Homo sapiens: one gene and its partners. The protein of the gene in region 1 purifies or fractionates together with the protein of each later gene. This does not show direct contact. Each region holds a gene or a part of one and is shown on either strand. Other genes may lie near its edges.

What was found.
Region 2: the proteins of LRIG1 (region 1) and RAB4A purify together in Homo sapiens (affinity purification with mass spectrometry; 2 studies listed by BioGRID and IntAct, with this or other methods). This does not show direct contact.
Region 3: the proteins of LRIG1 (region 1) and FGL1 purify together in Homo sapiens (co-immunoprecipitation; one large-scale study listed by IntAct). This does not show direct contact.
Region 4: the proteins of LRIG1 (region 1) and LIMCH1 purify together in Homo sapiens (co-immunoprecipitation; one study listed by IntAct). This does not show direct contact.
Region 5: the proteins of LRIG1 (region 1) and MTFR1L purify together in Homo sapiens (affinity purification with mass spectrometry; 2 studies listed by BioGRID and IntAct, with this or other methods). This does not show direct contact.
Region 6: the proteins of LRIG1 (region 1) and ODR4 purify together in Homo sapiens (affinity purification with mass spectrometry; one large-scale study listed by BioGRID and IntAct). This does not show direct contact.
Region 7: the proteins of LRIG1 (region 1) and LMO7 purify together in Homo sapiens (co-immunoprecipitation; one study listed by IntAct). This does not show direct contact.

Annotation. Positions count from the first base shown.
Region 1 is NC_000003.12:66,494,523-66,498,022, forward strand, and holds part of LRIG1 (leucine-rich repeats and immunoglobulin-like domains protein 1 isoform 1 precursor), read right to left. Parts: intron 1-3,500. UniProt on the Homo sapiens protein: Acts as a feedback negative regulator of signaling by receptor tyrosine kinases, through a mechanism that involves enhancement of receptor ubiquitination and accelerated intracellular degradation.
Region 2 is NC_000001.11:229,298,611-229,302,110, forward strand, and holds part of RAB4A (ras-related protein Rab-4A), read left to right. Parts: intron 1-366; coding exon 367-462; intron 463-3,500. UniProt on the Homo sapiens protein: The small GTPases Rab are key regulators of intracellular membrane trafficking, from the formation of transport vesicles to their fusion with membranes.
Region 3 is NC_000008.11:17,864,525-17,868,024, forward strand, and holds part of FGL1 (fibrinogen-like protein 1 precursor), read right to left. Parts: intron 228-3,500; coding exon 68-227; 3' UTR 1-67. UniProt on the Homo sapiens protein: Immune suppressive molecule that inhibits antigen-specific T-cell activation by acting as a major ligand of LAG3. Responsible for LAG3 T-cell inhibitory function. Binds LAG3 independently from MHC class II (MHC-II).
Region 4 is NC_000004.12:41,649,657-41,653,156, reverse strand, and holds part of LIMCH1 (LIM and calponin homology domains-containing protein 1), read right to left. Parts: intron 2,765-3,500; coding exon 2,549-2,764; intron 1-2,548.
Region 5 is NC_000001.11:25,818,520-25,822,753, forward strand, and holds the start of MTFR1L (mitochondrial fission regulator 1-like), read left to right. Parts: upstream 1-1,434; 5' UTR 1,435-1,510; exon of another isoform or gene 1,511-4,234. UniProt on the Homo sapiens protein: Mitochondrial protein required for adaptation of miochondrial dynamics to metabolic changes. Regulates mitochondrial morphology at steady state and mediates AMPK-dependent stress-induced mitochondrial fragmentation via the control of OPA1 levels.
Region 6 is NC_000001.11:186,396,338-186,399,837, reverse strand, and holds part of ODR4 (protein odr-4 homolog), read right to left. Parts: intron 1,540-3,500; coding exon of another isoform or gene 1,526-1,539; coding exon 1,397-1,525; intron 885-1,396; coding exon 794-884; intron 1-793. UniProt on the Homo sapiens protein: May play a role in the trafficking of a subset of G-protein coupled receptors.
Region 7 is NC_000013.11:75,800,330-75,803,829, reverse strand, and holds part of LMO7 (LIM domain only protein 7), read right to left. Parts: intron 3,147-3,500; coding exon 2,948-3,146; intron 1-2,947.

The DNA of each region.
Region 1 (3,500 bases):
TATAAAACCCAGTGAAATGGAGAAACAGCTTAAAAAACTGAAGGACTTCTATGAACAGATTGAAGTTATAACTTGTGTTTCAAAAGACTATGCATAAAGTACTTAGGTAAAAACCATTGATAACAAATTATACAAAATATAAGAATATAAGAACATATAAAGCAAAAAGCCTTTGTATAAGAAAAGTTCACAAGCATACCCACCACCCCCTACAAAAAAGAGACACAAATTGCCGACTTTCAACTAGAAATTAGACCATCAATAAACTGCAAATTTTTTCTGCAATCTTTATTGATCCATTCATTTTGCTTAATAAGAATGGTCATGTATCAAGTATTTCAGCAAAAAACTTCTCAGTCCTAGTCATAATTGGACAATTAATTGGTCAGTCGGGACTGCTCTTCTAAACTGTGCAGCTATATCAAATTCTTTGAGCAAAACATAAATGCAGGTCCCAGAGGTAAACTATTATAAAAATGTTAACCACTGGTCTTCAAAGTGCTCTATTTCTTTCCAGAGGAGATAAGATCTGAGTTTCTTACCAATTTCCACACTTTAACTTGAAACAAAAGCACAAGATAACCACATAACTGACATACAAGAACTGAAGCCATGAGGTAGATAGAATGAACCCTAGTGGCTCAGTGTCATGCTTAAGTCATAAAAAATAACAGTAACGGTCCCTAAATTTCCCACAGGCTGGTAAACACTGGAGATTTTTAGATATTTGCCCTTCCCTGCCTGGGAATTTTTCCTCCACCCGTCCTCCCTCCTGTCTCAAGACAATGCCATCAGCCTTTGAAACTGCATCCATTGTAAACAGCTCTGAATATTAACACGGCCCAGAGTTCTGTTCGCTTTTAAAAGACCCCCAGGGTTTCAAATTGCAGTCACTGAGGAGGGGGAACGTACCCAGTGAGTAAATGTCACATAGCTCATTCAAAAGGAATTGAAAGTTAGGCTTGCTCGTGAAACTTAAAGTCCTTCTACCTATGGGGTAGGTCAGAGGAATCCCTTTTATGTTTTAAACAAACGAGGAAAAGAAGAAAGAAAGACTCTGATACAACCAACATCCTTTACTGCATATAACAACTTTCAATTCAATGAATCCCTCTTCTAGATTTCCCTCTCCTGTGCATGCCACTTTTTAAATAACTATAGGCTATTTTAAACAACCTCCACCCAGCCTTCCTATCTAACAGACCTTCAGGGCTTTAGCAGGTGCACAGCACTGGGCCAGGTGCATTGTTAAGTCACACAAAACCCCAGTGCTCTCTCCTGCATTCCTGTCCACCCTGAAAGAGAGGAGGCTGAAGACTTTGCACCAAGGAGACACCCCTGCAGAAGCGGGAGAGGCCCTTTCATTGTGATCATGGTGTCTGAGGGAGAGAAAGGTCAGCCAGAGGCCGTCCCAATGGACTCAGGGAAGCTGCAGGGAGAACCCAGGCAAAGTAATTAACACTGGAGGGAGGAAAGCTTTCAGCTAACGGTGCAGAGCTGGGGAGATGGGACATGAGGACATCCACTAGGAACCAGCTCTCATCACACTACACTTAATTTTTCTTCATCTTTCTGAAGATGGTTCCGAGAATTACTGCTGATAATATGTTCAAAAGTCCAAAGTCTGTAAAATCTAGTAACCAAATATAATTATGCAAAGAGACAATACACTACTTTTTAAAACAGTCCCTTGAAAAGCGGGGCAGGAACAGTTCTGACATGTCCTAAAGGCAAGAGGGACATTGTGTGCCAATACACAGTTAATTTACATGGGGCGCTGGGAATCTCTGGACACTTCCTACTTTAGCAGTACTCAAAGAATAGATATTACGGCCACAATTTCATATCAGCAAGACTTAAACAGTGTGCCTTTTTCTCACGACAACCAATATTATTTGCCAGAAATCTCACCTTACTCAAAAAAAGTTGTCAGAGAGCTATCAACAGACAAGTTATCCCCCAACAAGAGGGAAGACACTTGTTGCAAAAGAAAAGGACTCTGAGCTCAAGCTAAAGTTCCCTGAAACTCTAAGAGCACTTGCACCTTTCAGACTGTATTCTTGGCAATTAACCTGTGTTTAAAATGCTCCCTATTCCAAACAACCCAGGTTCTTCCCTGTCCCACAAATCGGAAGACTTTTGTTTCAAAGTCTGTTGAGTTTAAGTGATATGGAGAAGGAAATATTTCAGGACCATCCATACAACAATCTACTTTAAAAAAAAAACATGAATCTCAGTTTAGGTTCCAGAACAATTTGGTGATCTGCACTTTAAACTTAATTTGCATAAACAGGATGGAAAGTATTTTCCAAACCCTTAATTCACAACACCCTGCACACCTGGGCCTTCCAGCACAGCTGTAAAATTTGAAAGACAAAGGCCCTCTTTGCTTCCCAACCACAATGGCAACCACAGTTGGTGTTTATTTTCTAAGGTAATCATAAGTACCACTTCTTTGCCAAAACTGGCAAGGTTAGATTTAAGCTAACTGATCTGGTATTGCAAACACATAGTACAAAGAGATCAAAATCAATAAACTCATCTTAATGTGGCTTAGGATAACCACACTTGGTATACACTTTTGTGAATATCCTTGCTTTAGAATGCTCTGTCATCTTCACTCCACACTGAGAACAAAAATCAGGGTTTGTTCTTCCTCTAGGCCTGCCTTCCTAATCCTAATCCCAATCCCAATGGGCTACCATTCAGCTCTCAGGACATTTAAACTAGCAACATTTTGTGACTAAACACTGCTGAAATTTACGGCACAGGTAAGAGTCTAAGGTAAACTGTATTTAATACTTCTTAAATAGCTTCTGAAGCCATGCTCTCAAAAATAATTTCAAAGAAAGCAAATATCTGAGTTCTAAGAAGTTCAACTTCTTCTCAGGTTCTGGGAAGTTGGAATAAGGCTTGGCAGTGGCTTGGTGCTATTTATGAATGTGCTAGTTGGACCATGCCAATCTCACCTACGTAATGGGCTGGGAGACTTAAATTATGGCTTGACTACTACAACTGTAAGTTATTGTGCTGAAAAGTTATCCTCAGGCCCCAAAAATGAACCGATTATCATTATCCATTCTGTTTCTTCTATTCACACTGCATTTACATTCACTATTTAAAAGTTTTATTTTTCTTATATCAGGCCTAGAAGCAACTTCCACATCAGACGCACTGTTTACAAAAAAAAAAAAAAAAAAAAAAAAGGTCCCATAAAGCCACAGGTCCTCTGCTATCTCAAACCCACAGCCTGAAGTTGTTTGAACTAGCTGCAGTAAATCCAGTTCATGGGTTTATAAACTAGCTCAAAGCATTTTCTAGACACCGTGGGCTTAGAGCGTGTAAACTTGGTGAAACTACAAGATATTTCATTATATCATATACAGACACTTTCTCCCCTAAAGTCTTGCTGAATCTTAGCCAGGAATACAAACCATATAAATACTCTTATGGAAATTCCAGAATAAGACTCACGGAGACTAATGATTTAAATTCAGAAG
Region 2 (3,500 bases), on another chromosome or scaffold:
ACTCAGATTGTTTGAAGAAGGACATTGCAACTTTCCCTGAAATCAATGGCAGGGCCATTTTGGCAAGCCAGCTCCTTTCTGATGGGCTGTCATTTGGCTGGGGAAGCCTGGTTGCTTGCTCAGCCCCTTCACCAGGTTAAGTGCTAGCACAAGATAGCAGTTACTTTTCAGAAAAGGCTAAAATTCTTTTAACATTTAAAAAACACATAATGACATATATTGATTTTATATTTACAGAAATATATGGTTTTAGGTCATAAATTATATTTCGTCTGCTTTTCTAAGAGAATGCTACACAGGCTTTTGTAAGTGAAAATTATGATCATCTTCTAAACATGACTTTATTTTGTTTGATGTCCATTTTAGAGCTGATGTTTTTGGAAACAAGTGCGCTCACAGGGGAGAATGTAGAAGAGGCTTTTGTACAGTGTGCAAGAAAAATACTTAACAAAATCGAATCAGGTAAAAGCCTTTCCATTAAGCAACTTTTCTTCTGCATATTTTACACTGTAGCTCAGTAGATCACCTTTTAATTAATAGTTTCAGGGTGATTTAGTAAAGAATGTTCTCTCTCTACCTGCCAACCTAAAATCATCACATATGGGTTCAAAGGTCCTGTTCTTATCAGGATGAAAGCCCCATCCTTATCAGGATGGTTTCCATGGTGATGAAAGTGGATGGGCACACCAGCTCAGCTGTGGAAAGGTAGTCAAGGTTTCAGGGAGTGTTTGCATTTAGAACCATAGTCTTTCTTTGGTCCTTCACTAAACGGAGGAAGAATAGGCCTTTGTCCACTCTGTCAACAGCACGCTAATTCTGTTGGGCCAGTGGTCATGTGTAAGGGAGTTATAGGTACATGGTATAGTGTTGATTGTTGCAGATCGGGCATCATGGAACTATGGAGTCCAGAGTAATTTTATTTCTGAAGCTTACTGAGCATGCCTCAATTATAAAATGCCTCATTTTTGTATTTGCTTATTAAAATAATTTAAAATAATCCTAATGTAGGCAGCTGACGAAATACTGTGTAGTTGTCATTTACTAAAGTAACTATATATGGGCATCACCTTTTAATTGATTCATTCAAACATCTGAGTGCCTATTTGTCAGATGCTGGGATACAAAAATGAATAAATCACACCCCTTGCCCCCCAAGAAACTGTCTTTCATGGGAGACAGTCAGAGGATAATTATAATATCACAAGGCTGATGTAGTAGCTGAGAGATGCACAGGCTCAGGGTAACGTGAAGAAGGGGACCTGCCCCAGCCAGAGGATAGAGGAGGTGTCAGGGAGGGCTTTCAGGGGAGGTCTTAGATGAGCTCAGTCTTTCAGAATATAAGGAAGAGTGAGCCAGCAAAGGGAGTGAGGAAGAGGGAATAGCAGGAGAAAAGGTTGAAGAAAGGCAGGAGCCAGCCAGTCCTCATCAAGGATCTAGAACTTTATCTTGTAGATTACCAATTGTCAACCCTGGATGAGCACTAGAGACACTGAGATGCATTAAAAGTTCTAATCCCAGGCTCTGCCTCTGGAGACGCTGAACTAATTGGGCTGAAGTATGGTCGAGGCACCAGTGTTTTTAAATGTTTACTCATGCTGTTCTAATGTTCATCCAAGATTGAGAACCACTGCTGTAGGTGGTGGGTTGTCAGCAGGTGGGTGATGTGATTGGGTTGTGACTTGAGATAAGTCATGTATGTAGGAGGTTATGTTGAAAACAAACTGAAGGGAGGACAGGCCTGGAGGCCAGGATACCAATTATAAGGCATTTTTGAGTAATCCTAGTAAGAGATGACTGATTAATGCTTTAACAAGGATATGGAAGCAGAGATGGAGAGAGAGATGGATCTAAGATATATTTAGGCAGTAGCATCTTATGACTCATATGCCCAATAGTGGGACAGGACAACTGACTCTTAGGTGGGACAAGGTGAGGAGGAAGGGCCAGCAGGGGAGGAGGAACCAAGGATGACTCGCAGCTGTCACACTGGTGTCTCTAGACAGAGATGGGGTGGAGCCAGAGGAGAAGCAGGGAATGTGAGGGAGTAAAGATGGCTCTGTTGCAAATGTGCGGCCTTTGCGGTAACGCTGAGACATGAACATGGAGTTATCTAGTAAGCTTGGGGAAGAGTTCCTGGCTGGCAGTATAAGTTTGGGAACCATCAATATATAGGAACAGCTAAAACTGTGGAAGCAATGTGATCGTCCGGAGAACAGTGTTTAAGGAGAGCAGTGATCAACAGAACCCTGGAGTTGGAGGATGAGCAGAGGAAGAGGAATCTACAAAAAAGATGAAAAAGGAAATGGTCGGAAATGTGTGAAGAAAATCAAGGGAATGTGGGTGTCACTTAAGCCCTAATTATAAGCAAATCAAAGGAGTGTTCATTATGTAATGTAATAGTAACAGAGGGAAGCCTCATAAGCTAAGACTGAGCTGAAAAACACACATTGGGATGGGGAATAGAAAGTCAGTGATCATTTTGATCAAGAACAATTTCAGCAGAATTATGAAGGTAGAAGATGGCTGGCCGTCCGTTAGGAAGAAGTAGGAGGTGAGCAAGCAGAGTGTCCACTCCTCTCCTGAGGAAGCACAGGCTGGCACTGTAGGGTGCAAAGGGTTAATTTAAAGCTGGGGTTGTGGGTGATGGGAGAAATTCCAGCATGTTTAAATGCTGAGGGGGAAGGAGAGAAGAATGGGCAAGGAGAGGGCAGGGAAGAAGGAGGGTGCTAGGTGAAGTAGGAGGGAGGAGAGTCGGGCCCAGGTAGAAGGGCTGGGTTTCAACAGAAGTGGACATGTCATCTTTTTGTATTTTTTTTTATCAGAAAGAAAAAAAAATTACTAAGCTTGGTACAAAAACCAAGACACTGTTACATAAATCCTTACAGTTGGCTTACTGTTGAGTATTATTAAGCTCAGCATGAGGTTGTATTTACATGACCTTGCTATTTTAATATTGTATCCCTGAATGCATCAGATAGAACAACTCATATGCAGTCTTCCAAGATGTGTTTTTTTCTGAGATCATCAAAATCATAAGTACCTCTAGGTGAAAAAAATATAAGAGTATAAATTAGGATTCTTCAGCAGTACTTTTTATTTTTTTAATGGGTAATACATTCAGAAACCATTGTTTTCTTCCCTTTTTTTATATAAAATGTATCATATGATAGACTACCACGCCTTGCTTTTTTACTTACTATTGTATAACCTACAAATCATTACAAATCAGCTTATAGTTTCCGTATATACATATAATACATAAGGTACATATATATAACATAATGTCATACATAATGTGTGTGTGTAATGTGTAATATGGGTTGAGTATCCCTAATCCAAAATGTTCCAAAATCTGAAACTTTTTAATTGCCAACATTGCCACTGAAAGGAAATGCTCATTGGAGCACTTCAAATTTCAGATTTTCAGATTAGGGATGCTGAACTGGTAAGTATAATGGAAATATTTCAAAATCTGAAAAAATCCAAAATACTTCTGGTTT
Region 3 (3,500 bases), on another chromosome or scaffold:
GAATGAGTATTTTTCAAATCACTTTAAACAAAGCTGAATTGCAGAAACGAAAGCCCAACAGCAGCAATTAAATTACATTTGGAATAAAATCATTTGGCCTAATTTTCATAACCACAGATTTCAGAGAATACCACCACCCATGCCAGGTGTACCAGACAATCCCATTGTCTGTTTTAGCCGTGTAGGGGCCGCTGTAGTATACACCATTCAGGTTTGCAGAGTGACACCTAGTGGAAGGGAGAAAAAAAAAGAAAACAACAATCAGACTGGAAAAATATTGTTCAGAATCCCTTTTATTTTGCTACAAATGCTCAAAATTTTTGAACTATGAATTCTGCCATTTTTCAGACAAGTAAATATTTACTAGTTTCCAAAAGCTGAGAAATTTCTACAACAGATGGCTATTGTATTTTATTTTTTATTTTTTAATTTTTTTTTAATAATAGAGACAGTGTCTCACTGTGTTGCCCTGGCTGGTCTCCAACTCCTGAGCTCAAGCAATCCTCCTGCCTCAGCCTTCCAAACTGCTGGGATAACAGGTGTGAGCCACTGCGCCTGGCCTCAGAGATGGGTATTTTAAAATGGTGAGTTTTACTGCCATTACAAATCTGAAAATACAACCCAGGCCACTCACAGTGCATTGAAAAATAAGCATTTCAATTTTTGATTTTCTTTAAACAAAAAATTAAAACAAGCAAACAAAAACGCATCCTTGTAACCTCCAGCCTTACAACCTCCTGACTCAGAACAGTGTTAATTTCATACTTAACAAGAGCTAAGGTGAGTGTCAGCAAAGCAAGTCGTGGGCAAGGTGCTCTACTACTGGCTTTCCTGGATAATTTGCACTCACACGTTCATTCCTCTGCTGCTAAGACTTAGCTTTCATAATTCAAACTCCGTATGTCCCCTTCTTTAAATTGCTAGCCTATCAGTTATTTCAATCTCAAGGGTAAGCAAACAAACCTAAATCACCATTTAAAGTTTTGCCACCCATCAACCAATAATCATTTTTTCCTAGTTGCTGAGTTAATTTTTTACATATATTGCACCAATCTAGATAAGCTGGTTAGGTTATCGACAATATAAAAATGTTTCTTTCCTCCTTTGGAGTCTGTAAATTTTGTCCTTGATATGTATAATTTACATGTAACAGTATGCAATAAGTTTATGTGTGTTGTTATGAAATTAATTGCCATATACTTCTTTATTGATAAAATTAATGAAAAGATGTCAGAATTAGGATAGAAGGAGAACATTCACAAGAGGTAGTTCTGAACATCTATGGAAAAACCCAAATTATTGAATCAAAAAAGCATATAATCTACCCGTAAAGGCTGAGTGGCTGGCTTGAATCACTTATCAGCTTAATGATTCACTCCTACTGAGCGTTCTCGAAGTCCTCCTAACTTAAATGGACGTAATTAATTGAAAATATGTATGTCAAGTCTGCAAATGTCAAAGCCTACTGTGTTTTTAAAACAGCATGGAAAGTAATGTTAAAAAAAGAAAATACTGTAAATTGAGTCTCCAGAATATATATTTTGGCATATATTTGTCTATCTAGAGACATCTGCTAACTATATTTTTATATTTGGTCTATCATTTGAATCCCATTAGGAAACTGACTCTGTGATGAACATAAGAAACCTTCACTATTCTGAGACCAGTTTTCTAGCATCGTTTAGTTTTTAGAACAGCCTGGATTTGAAACTAGGTTAGGGGATGATTGGGTCTTCCTTGGTGAAGAAGTGGCTGTGAACACTCACGTGAAATGCTACACTAACAAAGAAAAGACATCAACTCGCAGTGATTGGTTTGCTATGTGGAAAAAAACATTTTATAGGTGGGTAATATTTATGAAGTGCCAACATTTCATGTAAATTAGAAGAACTATGGGACAGAAAAAAAGCAACAGTAAGAAGGAAGAAAAGATGATAGTCGAACTCACTGATAGTAGGCATGGTAGAAGTAGCACCAAGTTTCTAAAACAATCTACTTTCTCTCCCTTAATGCCTACTGATTTTCCAATTGCACAGCCTTATCAACCCCTTTGATTCCAAGGATAATGTGGGCTCTGTGGCAGGCTCCACCTAATGAATGGCCTTTCTTTGTGCTCCCTGAACCCATTTCTTTAAAGTCAGGTAAATCGTTCCTTTGCCCACATTAATATACATGGTAGTTTTCATTCAGATGCCTTAGAAGCCAGTCAGCTGGATAAAGTACATGGTTTTGATCTCAGGATACTATTAGTAATTATTTCTGTATATGGAATTGTTTTCAAAATCAAACATTGGTGATGCTTGCAGATGACTTCATGAATTACACGTTAAGTTTTATGTCATGCTGACTTAGAAGAACAAGGGGGAAAGAAAGGAGTAGGAACAGGTGAAGAAGACGGTTTTTAAAATAACAGGAAAACCACTAAGGAAAACACCATCATCACCTTCAATTTGCAAAGCAGGAGAGTGAAATTTGTTTCTCTCCTTCACACTGCTGGAAATACTCCAGTTCCTTTATAAATGATCAAATCTTAAATGGACTCAAATGTTTTTTTAAAAAAGCAAAATATAGAAAAGATGACTATTTTTACAACAGCAGTAGTACTCCCTTATCTGCAGGGGATACGTTCTAAGACCCCTAGTGGATGCCTGAAACTACAGATAATACCAAATTCTATATATTGATACTATGCTTTTTCAGTCTGATAACCGAAACAGCTACGAAGTGAGTAACGAGCAGATAAAGAAAATAAAATTTACCAAACTGAAAGACATGATATAGATTCAAAAGAACCACTGAGTACCCACTGCAGTAAACCAAAAGAAGACCACGACAGTGTATGTCACTGTAAAATTTCAGAACGCTAGGGGGAAAAATCTTTTGGGTGTAGGAAGGAAAAAAACCATCTATAGTAGTTCTCTGTTTTTTCCTATAATATACATACCTATGACAAAGTTAATTTATAAATTAGACACAGTAAGAGATTAACAACAACTAATAATAAAAGATTATGATTATATAACAATATGTCAGCATTACAGCTCTTGTGCTTTGGGACCATTATTAAATCAAATAAGCATGATTCGAACACGAGCACTATGAAACTCCAACACTGGATCTGATAACTCAGACTTCTACTAAGTGTCTTGGGGCAGGGAGGGCTTTCAGCGTGGATACGCTAGACAGAGGGGTGACCCACCTCCTGGGCAGAAAGAATCCAATGGTGCGAATCTCTGCTCAGAATGACATGCAATTTAAAACTTATGAATTCGGCAGGGTGCGGTGGCTCACGCCCAACACTTTGGGAGGCCGGGGTAGGTGGATCACATGAGGCCAGGAGTTCGAGACCTGCCTGGGCAACATGGCAAAACCCCATCTCTACCAAAAATGCAAAAATTAGCCCATGTACCCCAGAAATATATAAAATATTTTGTATCAGTAAAAAAAGAAGCAACTATATACAATCAAAAACGGAATGAATTTGCTGATAAAGTAACATG
Region 4 (3,500 bases), on another chromosome or scaffold:
TGAGTAATGAGCCACAGTCCTATGTAGTACAGCTAACAACTTAGCTTATAGTCTGACAGATATATACAGAGATTTTCCCACACAGAAAGTAATGCAATACCCCCTGCCATAGTTGATTCAAAAGCCTAAAGTACTATAGACAGGGTCCATAAATACTACTACCTGTTCAGAAACATTAGGGTTCACTGACCTAGAAATTACTCTGAACTAGGCAATTTCTCCAAGGAAGAAATACACAAAAGGAAAAGACTCCCAGGCTTTTCTGAGTTTAGACCTGCATCCTTAGGCAACCAGGATCAGGCTGGTTTCTAGGAAGAAAGTCCTGAAGGCCATCCTTCTCCATGTGATCATGTATAAACTTTTGAAATAGCATAGTTTCTTTCAGATCGTGTAATTTTGCTTCTCTTAAAACAAGTTACTTTGGGGGATATGTAATCAATGTGAAATCTTTTTAATGAAGGGAATTTAGAAAACGATCATCATGAAAAATGGCAAAAGAGAAATAAGAACAGAATTATTAATTGTCCCTGAAAAGCAATGCCACCCCTATGTCTAATTAATTTGGGGTCTTCTAGTTTAATTTTAACAGCATAAGTTAATGTTTACTCTATCAGTTAAGTTCTCACACTGCTAGCAGAACTCAATATTCTGTCTCGTGATCATCTGCAAGAAATCTCTAGCAGAGGTAAGACGTATGCAAATGACAAGTAAAATGGAAGTCCAGGAAGTCCAAGTTCAGGAGAGACTCCGCAGTGGCCTGGATCACAAAACTCTGCTCCTAGAGACTAGGAAACGTGTTACCATGGTGAGAAAATGATTTTGGTCTACTCCCATTTGAATCTCTTTCACAGAGCACTTGGGTACTGCGTGGAAGAATTATATCTTCTCAACTCCTCTGAAAAAAAAAATAATTTTAGTCTTCAAAAGACTAATCATAAAGGAAAAAAATAATGATATCCAGCCTTCTAGGTGGGTTTTAGCTAGCTGGGTCACACAACGCTCAGCTCCCTTGGTGCCGGAAGAAGTTTCCTTTCACACCAAACCTTTCTAGGTCCTGGGGGAAAATATCTTGATAGTTTTTCCCTTCTTGTAACTATAATATAAACCCAAATGCTATAAATTAGAACAGCAGAAACTCAGCCTCTGGTGAGTACAAATGAGGTTGAACAGAGTCCAGCCCGTACCCCGAAAGCAGGGCTGCATCTGTGTAGTGACAGTTTCGGTTAGATTAGTGAAACCAGCATGAGTCTTTCTGGTGAGAGATGGAAGAAAGTGCAATTTTCCCAATGATGTCTTCTACTCCAAAGAAACAAATATCATGTTATTTTGAGTTCACTTTTCTGCAGTACCTGAATTAGCATACATTTTTTAGCTTTGCCATTCAATAGTACTCTGATGCTTTACATTACTTTCAGCTTTTAAATGAATTTTTGTTTCTTTAACTAATAAGAAAAAGGCCCTTTTATATATACATCGCCGGGGATGGAAAGCTAGATTCTGATAGCACCAGTTATTTTCAAATGGCATTAACAAGTCTAATGAGGTCCTAAATAAACAGGGGGGGAAAAGGTATTTTAAAGATTTACTTATTCTTCTATAACACTGGACACCAATAGTGAGACAAGAAAAAGTAATTTCTGGCTCATAAATTGTAATACCTTCCATTATACCAATGATACAGGTTGAATTGTGTCTCCCAAAATTCATATTATTGAAGTCCTAACCCTTACTACTCAGAAAGTGACCTTTGGAAATAGGGCTGCTGCAGATGTGATTAGTTAAGATGAGGTCACAAGGGAGAAGGGTGGACCTACTCAGTATGACTGGTGTTCTTCTAAAAAGGGGAAATTAGGCTGGGTGTGGTAGCTCATGCCTGTAATCCCAGCACTTTTGGGAGGCTGAGGTGGGTGGATCACTTGAGGTCAGGAGCTCAAGACCAGCCTGGCCAACATGGTGAAACCTGTCTCTACTAAAAATACAAAATTAGCTGGGTGCACTTGTGCATGCCTGTAGTCCCAGTTACTTGGGAGGATGAGGCAGGAGAATTGCTTGAAGCCTGGAGGCAGAGGTTGCAGTGAGCCAAGATCGCACCATTACACTCCAGCCTAGGCAAAAAGAGCGAATTTCCATCTCGAAAAATAAAATAAAATAAAATAAAATAGGGAAATCTGAATACAGACACATCCACAGGGAGAACACCAGTGAAGACAAAGGCAGAGAGGGGGATGACACATCCATAAGCCCAGGAACATCAAGATTGCCAGCAGCCACCAGAGGCTAGGAGAGAGACCTGGAACAGATGCTCTCTCATGACCAATGGAGGGAGCCAACCCTGCCAACACCTTGGTTTTGGACTTCTAGCTACCAGGACTGTGAGACAGTTTCTGTTGTTTAAGCCACTGAGTTTGTGGTACTTACAGCAGCCCTAGCAAACTAATACGCCAACATAGAAAGAAATGGTCATTATCATGACCTACTTATTTTTAAAAACAGATTCTTTCACCATGGAATTATCCCAAAGGGAGGCGGGGAAATGTTTGGTTCTTACTGCGAGCTCTTGGGGAACAGAGTTTGGCTTCTTTATGTTGATCTCGATGCTACCGTTGTCTTGTTTCAGCTCCAGTGGAGACCCGTGCACTCTGGCCACACCTTCAAACATCTGGGATTTGGTTAAGGAGTGGGCAGGTGCCACCGTGGGACACTCTCTTTCCTTCTCCTCCTCTCTATGAACCGTCTCTCCATTCACACTGACTTTCCCGTCTACCTATAAAAGCCAGAATGAACAAAAAACATGCTATATATACCCCAATCAAAGACTGTAACAAAACGACACGTTCAGAATTACCTCAAAAGATCATCATTTAATAACCAGAGTCCAATGAAGGAAGAGGTCTCTTAAATGTTCTGATGGGATCTATGAGTTAGGGCTTCTATAAATGCTATCTTTGAGGGCCTCCTTAAAAGGTAGTTGGCCTGCTTGGGCCACTTCACTATAGATTCCATTTCATGTTCACCTCATTTATGGTCTGCTTTTATTTTAAAGTACAGAAAACCGAAGAATCTTAAGTACAAATACATGCCACATATTGGGGTTCCAATACTGTTTCACTTCAGTTCTGATTGCTATTCCACAACCTTGACTGTTTTTCTGGATAGCATATAAATGAGGCGGAACTTACCACAGATCAGGAATATTTTACAGCTTATCCCATGGTGGTAGCAGGGGAAACAGATACTTTTTTTGAAGCTAAGGCAGAGGGCAAGGGATCTGAGACTATGCTCTGTTACAGTGAATCTCTATTTCTAGTTACTTTTATAACCTCCATTTTTTAAAGAAAAAAAGACCATGCACATTAAAATATTTTTGTTTTGCACTCACATCGAGGGGAGGCAGTTGGAGCAAGAAAGGGAAACCAGAGAGGGCGGTTAGCCTGGCTTACTGAAAGGCATCTGGAAATCTCGGTCTTGAAATTTGAGGCAGAAAGTAGAGTGGTTTTGAG
Region 5 (4,234 bases), on another chromosome or scaffold:
GGTGGGGCTGGGGGGGAGTGTACTTCCAGAAAAACCAGTAAAAGAAGGAAGGAAGCAGAAGAGGGAAAGGAAAAATGCTGAGCAGGAACAGTCTCAGCCCAGCCTTGGCCTGACCCACAGTGGAAGAGCTGTGGGGCATAAACCACACTGCAGAGCTGAACTGGCCTTTTGGACCTTTTATCAGTCATTGGCTTGGGAGGTGAAGGAAATTCCCAGGTAGGGAGCTCCGTTCTTCCTGCAAGGGGATCTGAGTGGGACACCAAATCAGCATCTACACCCAGGACAGACAGCCAGCGTGGACTTGCATGATCCGCCATCGCACAGGAGGGAAAGGTAATGATTAAAACACAATGTGCCATCCTGGGAAGAGGGCCAGACCTGGAAGTCAATCTTCAGCGTTTGAGATATGGTGGAGATCAGGGTGGACGACCTCTGAGGTCTCTAGCCAGGACCAGTCACATAATTTGCACAGCCCCGTGCAAAATGAAAACACAAGAACCCCTATTAGAAAATCATTTCAAGACGGCAACAGCAAAGTACTAAACCAAGTACAGGATTCTGAGCATGCGGCCCGTTGTGACTGCATGGGCTGTTCACCCATGAAACCAGCTCTGTCTCTGGCAGAGGGGACTGCAGGCTTTGGAACCAAGGAACTCCAGCCTGGGAGCCAGGCACAGCCCGAGGCTGTGCTGAAGGCAGAGAAGGAAATGTGACCCAGGAACTGCATGCCACAGACCAAGACAGTGAGGGCTGGAGCACAAAGAGGGAGTGGGTTAGTGAGCCTGGAAGGAATGTGGCTCTTCCCACAGAGCCTCTGGAGTCTTGTACATCAAGTACCCATCTAATAAGCAAACTCATTGAATATACCGTGTGTGTGTGTGTGTGTGTGTGTGTGTGTGTGTGTGTGTGTGAGAGAGAGAGAGAGAGGCTAAAATAGAAGAAAGCTGCAAAGTGCTGGAGGGCAGGAGTCAAGAGGAGAAAGAGGCCCATTCTGCGCATTCTTGCTGGAGAGAGGCTTTGCAAAGGGACCTGCCTGGGAACCAAGAACTGGGAAGGGGGCCAGGGTGAGGATTCTGAAGTTTGCCCTAGGGGTAGGAGCATATTTTAGGGGTCGAGCGACACACCCCTGGGCTTCCAGAAGTCGGATGGGGCTAAACGTGGAGAGCAACAAGCAGGGAGACGCGACGAATACCAGGCCGAGGGATCTCCAAACGCAGCCAACTCCTCCCGGGGACACAGACCCCGCGGGGGCACGGTCTCGATGGAGGGGAGTGTGCTCCGCGGTATCGGAGCCTACAGCCGCCAGCGCCTCGCCCACTCGGGGGCCGCGCTCCCCTCGCCACCGAGCTGGACCCGCCTCCTGAGGGTGCGCGGAGGTGCGCCTCGGTGCGCAGCTGCGGAGGATCGCTTCCGGGGGGCGGGTCAGCGGAAGTGAGGGCGGTTGAGGCTGGGCGGCCCAAGGTGGAAGGAGGGGCCGTGAGGTGAGAGAGTCCGGGAGCCCGAGCTTGAGGTGAGAAAGGTTCTAGGGAGGCGCGGAGGCGGGAGCGCGACCTTCCAGCCCGTTAGTAGACTGGGTCTACGTGCCGGGCGCTGTGCGGAGCCCGCAGCTCCTGTTCCCGCGCGAGTTCTCGCGGGAGCCGCAGCTGTCCGTCTCACTTGGCCCGGGGGAAACTGAGTCCCCGAAGGGTAGTTGCTCGTCGGAGTTCCCCAGCAAACAGTGACCAAGCCAGACCTCAGGCTTCTAGTTTCGGCTTCGCTGCTTGACGGGCCGGGCTGCCCCGCCGCGCATTCTGAGACCTGGCCGCGGCTCGGAGGCTTCCGCGCACTCGGGTCCGGGTCCTGTGGGTCCAAGGGCCGCTGGGCAGGCGGCGAGCACTTGGCCGACCTTGGCCCAGGTCGGGTCGTCTGCCGCGGGGGAGGGGCGACTCGCCCTGGCGGGTCCCCGCGGGGAGAGGGTCCGCGCGGGTCTCCGGCCACTGCTGCGCGCGGCAAAGTTTCACTGAGCGCGGCGGCCTCCGTGGGGGCCCCCGGGACCAGGGGTGCTGAGCAGGGCCCTGCGCTGGAGGAGCTCCCGTTCTCCTGAGGGGACGCCTGTCAGCAGACAGCAACTGCAGCCTCCGGAGGGCTGCGGGGCGCAGAGGTGACAAGACCCACCGGTGCTGCCGGCGAACCGGGGGAAGATCTTCTAGCCAGTGACACTTGGGGGCGGGGGTGACAGCTGAGTTGGTGTTCCCCTTCATTCGTTTAGTTCAGCGCGTTGAAGCGCTCACTGTGTCCTAGGCAGACACCGTGCTGTGCGCGGGGATCACAGTTATCTAGTTCCTCTCGCGAGGACTCCGAGGGACAGGCAGGGTGCTGCGGAGCGCACAGGAAAGGACCTGACCCTGTCGCAGGGAAGGAAGGTGATGCTTAAGCTGAGCTCTGAGGAATGATGAAGAATGAGCTCGGCGAAGGGGGTGCTGGTGTTTGATGCAGGGCTCAGAGGTGGGCCCAGTGTTGGGGGTTGAGGGCCAGTGTGGCTGGAGGGCAAGGGGGAGAGCAGGAGGGCTGGCTGCGAAGCGTGCAGGCCTTGGTGCTCAGTGAATGTGGTCTAGAGACGGCAGAGAAAGATGGGTTTGGGACTGATTGTGGATTTTATCCTGTGTTGGCTCTAGTAAGCCAGTTTTAAACGGATGAGCGATGTGATTAACTGTGTTTGGGAAGGATTCCTCTGGCTGTGTGTGAGGGTTAGGCCCGGCTGGGTCTTTGGAGGTAAGGTCGGAGAGGAAGTGGCAGTAAGCACCGTTAGTGCAATTTGTGGCCGACACGGACATTCAGCACAGAGCCTGGCACACAGAGGGACTCTGATAATAAAGGCTTGAACTGAGCCGAGAAGATGGAGCCCACGCAGGAGGTGGCAGGACCTGGACCAGGCTTTGGGTGCTTTGCACTGGCATGACCACTGAGTGACCTTAGACAAGTGCCTTCCCCTGTCCAACTTCCTTTCCCCATGTGTATCGTGAAGTGAATGACACCTCGTCTCCCAAGGGTAGAAGAGGGGACCCTCCACAGGAGGTCTCCAGAAAGAGCTGCTTTGTCAGTCTAGTCTATCTCCCATTCAGAGCCTGTCCAGGGCTCCCCAGTGACCCGGACCTCATGACTTGCCCCCTACTTTTGTAGCTTTATCATGCTCTGCTCCTCTTTCCATGTCCTTCACCTTCTTGTGCTGGACCTGTGCTCTTGCTGTTTTGTCTTCATTTCCTACTCCCTCGCAACTTACTACAGGGCACTAGGGCCAGAGCTCTGACCTCATCTGGCCACCTGCCTAATGCTACTCAGCCTTTGCTAGAAGTATGTATTCATGTCCTATCACTCTGCTGGACAGCGAGTTCCTTGAGAGCATGACTGTGTCTTACTCCTTCCATAGCCCCTACGGTGCCCAGCACAAGGCCTGGCACAAGTGGGTACTGTTGGTGTTTGATGAACAAGTGAATGAACGAGCACACTGATTGCATCTGCTCACCATGCAAGGACTGCTGTGAAGAGCAGTCAGATGTCACCTCACCCATCTGTGTCATGTTTTAACAGTTCATTAAGCACTCAACCCCATTTCACTCATTGACCCTTAAGGTAGCCTCCAGTGGCAGCTTTTCCTGTCTCCTTTTTCCAGATGGAAAAACCAACATTCAGAAAAGTTAAATAACTTGCCTGTAGCTACAAAGCCAGAAGGTGGCTGAGCCAGGATAAACTTTTTTGGCTCTTTTTCTCTGTAGCTCATGAGACTGAGATTGGCATGAGCTGGTGTTCGTTCTCCTATTTTCTCTGATCTCTCCCTTTGCAAGGGCCCAGCAGTGCTTTTACATCTCATCTTCAAGAATGAATCCTGGGCTTGGATAGTACTTATAATTTGGCTAGATGAGCTTTGTAGCTACCAAGGATTCTATTTGCATCTTTAGAAGTTTTGCCTCAAGAAACCTGAGAGCCCAGGAAGGCTCTTGGGTTGGCCAAGCTCACTAGGCAAATCTTTTTTTTTTTTTTTTTTTTTTGAGACGGAGTCTCGCTCTGTCACCCAGGTTGGAGTGCAGTGGCGTGATCTCGGCTCACTGCAAGCTCTGCCTCCTGGGTTCACGCCATTCTCCTGCCTCAGCCTCCCAAGTAGCTGGTACTACAGGTGCCCGCCACCACACCTGGCTAATTTTTTGTATTTTTAGTAGAGACAGGGCTTCACTGTGTTAGCCAGGATGGTCTCGCTCTC
Region 6 (3,500 bases), on another chromosome or scaffold:
AAGATACTGTAACTCAGCCTTTTTTAAACGTAATGAAGTCTGTTAGAGTAATAGCTGAGAAGCATATAAACTAGTGTAGTTTATATAAATAGTACCTACTAAAGGAGCTATTATATAGTATTTAACACTAATAATATTTTGATTATGGCTAAATTATTTAAAATACTCATAGATATCAACAAAAAATACTAACTTTAAAATGTTAACAAAGTTTACTCATTCTGGCAGGAGAAGTTCACTTGGAATTAATTTTTTTAAAAATCCTCCCTGAAATTCTTAATTGTTGACAAATTTGCTAAATTTGATAGTGTTCTAAAACGTTTTTCTAGAGCCAAGCATGGTGGCTCACACCTGTAATCCCAGCACTTCGGGAAGCCAAAGACAGTGGATCACTTGAGTTCAGGAGTTTGAAACTAGCCTGGGCAACATGGCAAAACCCTGTCTCTAAAAAAACAATACCAAAAATTAGCAAGGCATCATGGCATGTGCCTGCAGGCCCACCTACTAGGGAGGCTGAGGTAGGAGGACTGCTTGAGCCCAAGAGGCTGAGGCTGCAGGTGAGCCATGACTGTGCCACTGCACCCCAGCCTGGGCAACACAGTGAGACTCTGTCTAAAAAAAAAAAAAAAAATCTGAGTAGCAACTGAAAAATTTTCATCCAATAATAAAAGATGATATACTGCTTGAAAATATAGATAGGTAGCTATAAAAGATGACGTATCTGCTATATCTTGATATCTTATTACTATATCAGTTGAAGATACGCAAAAAAGTACTTATTTTATACTCATAACTTTTTTTTCTGGAATTTCATTCAAAAGCAGATCCTCAAATAGCATTTCACAACGATCAGCAACTGTGTTCAATATATCCCTCTTTACTGCCTACAGGGAAAAACACACAAAAAACACAGTAAGAAATAAAATACTTTAGATTTACAATATTTAACTAACAAAAAAAATAATTTGCTTTCCAGTACAATCATGCCCACTAAATAACTGATACATCATTCAATGTTTTATTTCCACTTATTTAGCACACTTATTAACAAATTTATAGTTTAATGATAAATTTATCTAAATAGTTAAAAACAGATAAATGAATAAAATTTCACATCTAAAAAAATAATTGCAGTGTTCCAAATTAGATACTAATATGTATAACAGTGGAACACTTACTAAACTTGTATAGCCATCATTTTTAAAAAGGCACAAAATAGATACTCTACATATGAAAATCTTCACACCAATTATATGGTACATTTGGACTGCACAATAGGCCATTATCAGTTAAAATCGAATTAATAATTACAAAATATAAGATTAAAAAATGGTAAAATTTTAGGTTTTTGTTAATAGTTAACATGGTTCCATATGCTCGTTATTCCTTTTTGTACCTGCACAGCATCTTTAACTTTGGGTTTACTGCTGTGGATATAAGCTCTGCATTTCACAGCACCCTTAAGGTTTACAGAACCGCTACATATCTGGACTGTGGCTGTGGATCTGTGGTCTGAATTCAGGAGCTGAAAGACAAAATCTGTTTAAGTTCTAATAACCAACAATGATTAACTACAGGAAATATTTAAACATTATATTAGCGATTTTATGAAGAGAGAACAAAGTTTTGACTGAGCCAAGCATTTGAAATTATTCTCTGCAAATTATTTAAAGGCCTTCATATTTGTTTTTATAAGTTATATATTATTTTCCAGTCATTTTGAAGATATAATGAAATTAAACACAACTACATCTAAATTTTTCTAACATAACCATCTAAAATGGTTCAATATTCACTCGATATGCTCCTAAAAATATATTATTTGCAAATTATTCACATCAGTACTGTGATGATTAAAAGATATACAAAGAAGATATGATGTACTAGATATAAGTTGTGCAATGCAAAATAAGTTCACAATAACAAATACAAAGTGGGATGTGATAACTATGGTAAAACTACAAGCAATGCACAGACACATATATTTACACACTTTCAACCAAAAACTTTCATAGACTAGTCCCATCCTCTTTAGTCTAAGGAATGCCAGTGCTCTTGTTCGGTTTTCAGGTGTTTCACATATATTTTCAACCCCATCATCTTAATAAGTGCCAAAAACAAGGACAGTATCAAAATAGTTAAAGTACTACAGGTTGAGCATCCCTAATCTAAAAATCCTGAATGCTCCAAAATCCAAAACTTATTGAGCACCAATGTGATGTTCAAAGGAAAAGGTAATTGGAGCATATAAGATTTTAGATTTTTGGCTTAGAGATGCTCAACTGGTATGTATTCTGCAAATATTACAAAATCTAAAAAAAATCCCAAACCCAAAACACTTCTGGTCCTAAGCATTTCAAATAAGGCACACTCAACCTGTAATAGAGGCCTATAATAACAGTGGAAACAAAAAATAATGATTTACAAAAAATAACCAAAAAATGGAAATGGTAAGGAAGTAATTTATGTTCTAAGAACACTTGGAGTATAAGTCATTCAACAACCAAATCAATTCTGAAGAACAAAAGTCAAATCATACAACTTGTGAAAAGTGCTTTGTGCCTATGTGCTTATGCAATCAGGAATAAATGCGGAAAAATAATGAAGAGGAGAATACTGACATGCATAGCTATTGAAAGAGCATTATTGATGTCTAGTGTAATTCAAGCAATGTCTAAGGCAATGTAAATCTTCTAGGTGTTGTTAAACAATTTAAACTTTAAGATGGTCAAGGACTTGTTGACAAAAAATTTGCCACAGACCACACAGCTCCAAAGGTCCTGGGTCCATTCAAAAATGGCTATCATCAAACCAAGCAGCAGTGTGACGATGCTGATACAATGTCTGGAATAAGCTTCCATATGACACATGTAGAGTTCATTGATACATCAATAAGGTGGGGTTGGAGGAGGAGTAACAGGCTTCCCCTATCTACTCCATAACTTTTTATTGTAGACAAAACTACTCTAAAAAGAATGTCCTATTTTACATATTTAACATATAATTTATATATTTTTAACATATAACACATTTATATATTAGTATATGTAAATATATGTGTATGTGTGTATATACATATATCTATCTATCTATCTATCTATCTATCTATCTATCTATAATTATGGCATTGTTATCCAAAACAGACTAGACTATTAAAGACTATACACACACATATTAAAGAAAAGAGGTATTTTTTTGGTTGGTTGGTTAGTTTTATTTTGTTTTGTTTGAGGCAGGGTCTTGTTCTGTCATCCAGCCTAGAGTACAGTGATGCTATCAGAGCTCACTGCAGCCTCAAGCTCCTAGGCTCAATCGATCCTCCCACCTTCGCCTCCCAAGTAGCTGGGACTACAGGCACACACCATCACCCCCAGCTAATTTTTGTATTTTTTTGTAGAGACAGGGTTTCACTTGTTGCTCAGACTCATCTTGAACTCCTAGGCTCAAGCGATCACCCTGCCTAGGCCTCCCAAAGTGCTGGGATTACAGGCATGAGCTAC
Region 7 (3,500 bases), on another chromosome or scaffold:
AAGAAAAAAAAAAACAAGCTTGTAAAGGGTCTGGATAGATTCTATAAACCAGAATCACACATTAGATATGAGGCTGGACTGGATGACTTCTAAAGTTCCAAAGGAATCTGAAGTCTTATGCCCAAATGAGAGCACAGAACTCACAGTTTCTTCAGAGTGGCCATGGAAATTATATTGGGAACGCTGTATTATGATTCAAAATCATTTAAACACAAATTCAAAAGAACACCCTTTGATACTCCTCAAGGTCAGATAGATACAAATAGTAATCTGCTTTCTTAAAAGAAGAAGAATGAATCTACTCTTTTAAAGACAAAGGAAGAAAAGGGGGGAGAACAACACTACAGATCCAAGCCAAGCTGTCCCTCTTTCACACCCTTCTCTTCCTGCCTCCTGTGCACTTGTAAAGGTTTGGAAATGTTACTTGCTTCTCACCAGGGTTCTCTCCAGGCCTGGCTGTGCACAGTGCCTGACAGCTACAAGCTCTCAGCAGGTAGAGCACCTGCAGGGTTAACCTGAGTTAAATGCAGTCTCTTCCCCTCCCTCCTGCCTGGCAGGAAGCTACAGTAAATAACACTGAGAACAGTCTACAGGAAGTCGCTTAACATACAGCTATGAGACAGGGACAGAGTAAAAGGAGAGTAGAGTCTTGGCAAAAGAGGGAAAGTAAACGCAGCTGTGACCATGAGGAGTAGTAGTCAATAAACTGGTGCTTTCTTTTTACCACCTTCTAAAAAATCAGACATTTATTTCTCATTTCCAATAAGTATATCAATTACTCCTGCCGAAATCCATACATGTGGAATTTTAAAGTCATAAAGAGACTATTTTACTTTCTAACTTTTAAGAAAAAGTATTTTTTAGCCCAGTACGGTGTCCTGCAGAGAATTTTTTCCCCCAAAGTATCATTCTTGATATGAGTTTTCACGTAAAACTAGAGAATGTGACATTGCAATTCTGTTATCCTAAAAATATTACCCTACATTATAGTGCTCATCAATTTAGGACTACAATCTAGAGAGTAGCAGTAGAATTTTAACACACTGATCACAAAAGAGCTTTATCGGCCTGGTGCCTCCATCCCAGGCTTTTTTTCCCCGCTTAGTTGTAATTTCCAAGACTTCACTTACGCACTCTTTAAACAAGGTCTGCAGCCCCATTTCCAAGATCAGAAAGGGATGTGACAGTGGCCTTCTGCTTTTGGTTACATGGACAGGTGCCCATTCCAACAAGGATCTGAGAAGACGACTTAGATTCCACACCGCTGGGTGGGCCACTGCATCTGAACTGACTGAAGCCTGCATATTCCCACATGCCCTCTATCCCTTCCCCTTTTATTCCTTGACTAGATATAAATTCTGTCATTACATGGAGTAGGTTCTTCAGTAAGGGAAAAGAAATACAGCGGGTTCAGAATTTCAGCCTCTGCTTTTACAGCTTTAACCACTCAGATGAATCACATACTCAGATTCATTTCCTTAAACGTATTGGAATCGTCATCTGGGCTATGAAAATGTCACACCTTGACAGCAAACAGCCAATACGTGTGGCAGTAATTATAAAGGTTAATGCTGAAATAGCGTTTCACATTTTTTATTTTTAAAAACTACTACTCTAAAAGATAAAGCCTTCAGGTTTTTTGTTACCATGCTTAATAAATTGTTGATTGGTTTTTTGGAAAACAAATTCATAGCATGTTGTATTTATATAAGTTTCACATCAGAAGTAAAACAAAGAATAAATTCTAGTTAATGATGTTCATACTGAAGTATTTAGGACAAGTGTGATATATTCTGAAATGCCTCAAAAAATAAGATGACTAAATTATAATAGAGAAAGGAGGGAGGGAGAAAGAGAAAGAGAGAGAGAGGAGAGAGAGATGAGTATAAGATAAAGCATGCATAGTAAAACATCATGGTGGAATTAGGCAGCGAATACATGTGTGTTCGCTGTACAATTATTTTAAGTTTGCTGATTTTTGACATTTTTGTCATAGATATGCTAGGAAAAATATCTAGAAATAGAAAAGTAATATTCCAAATACACAAGCAATGTAAAATCCCTAACAATTAAGCACAAATCACAGCCAGAACTCAATGTTTTCACATTGATGTCGATAGAAGCACAGAAATATTTCAAAAAAAAAACTTCACTTGTGGTTTCAATCTAGTCAAATCTGAATAGCTGGAGATGTACACTCAGAAATTGCTGACGCTATACCCAGTAGCCACAGGAATAAGATGTGCATTGAAATAACTGAACTGACCATAAGCTTGGGATTTTGAAAGAAGGTTCCTTCCCGCAACAGAATGTCTCTAACATGTTCCTTTCACACTTGCTCTGTCCTGGGTTAGCTCTGACTCTGAAAGGACCAAAAGAGGATTTCTACCTGCATGTTAGGTGGTGGTATATTACTCAATCTACAAAGTTTAACATAATATTCTATCATGATAGATAGCAATCATTTCTTCTCATCTATAGAAATAATTGTAAAAATATTTTTCTTTTTTTGCTTAAGAGAGTTTTTTTAATCTTTTGAAAAAAGCCAAGGATGAAAGTTACTCAGAAACTAGAAGATTTTTTTTTTTTTTTGCAGAATCTTATATTCCTTTCTATGTTTAGATATATCAGTTTATAGAACTCTTGAACACAAATTAAGCCTGAATCTGGAGAGAGAAGAGCCAGGATAGATTATCACTGATAAAACAGGCCACAATTAACTGTCACCTCTCAGTCCTTTCCAGAAATGAAATTTTTCAAAAATGAAACTATCACCATCATGAAGGAGAAAAAAATAACAAAACCCCCAATTATACTCCAGTCTCTATGAAAATCCACTTCTAAGTGAAATTTTTGCCTAGTTTTTGCTCCATTTTTCTATTCTCTCCTGTTCCCAGTTCTCCCTTAATATGTGAACAAATAAACTGACAGCCAAAACACAACACACCTTCACGCCCCCCTCTCAACGTGATATCAGAGGAGCAGCTTGTCAATGACCTCGAGCCCAAAGAGTCCAAGCTTTCAAAGGAATCTTCTCTCTTATGGTGCCTTGGAGGAGCAAGAAATTCTCCACGTTCAGGACACCAGATGTCACCGTAGCCACTGTCCCTGCCACTTCTTTTCAGGAAGCTGGAGTCTTCGAGTGCCTAAAGAAAACGTTTTTTAAAGAATAGTAAGTTAAATAAACTTCCAAAAAATATAATCAATCGGTTATTACTTGCTTGTTTGCCTAATTTAAGTTGGGTTTTATTTGACATGTAAGGCATGAGGTTTCTCTGTCGGACACAGCAAAAAGCTGATGAAAAACAGAAAATAAATTTGTAATTGTTTGCCCACAACTGATACAATAAGGGGGTATTCAATATTCAAAGTAATAATAAGGAGATATTCAATATTATTTAATAAACTAGTACATATGTTCTATTTAAAAATAAGGAAAATTACTAGTTTAATGAAAGTTCATAGAGTAACATTGAAATGCTAAACTCAGTTATTACAGT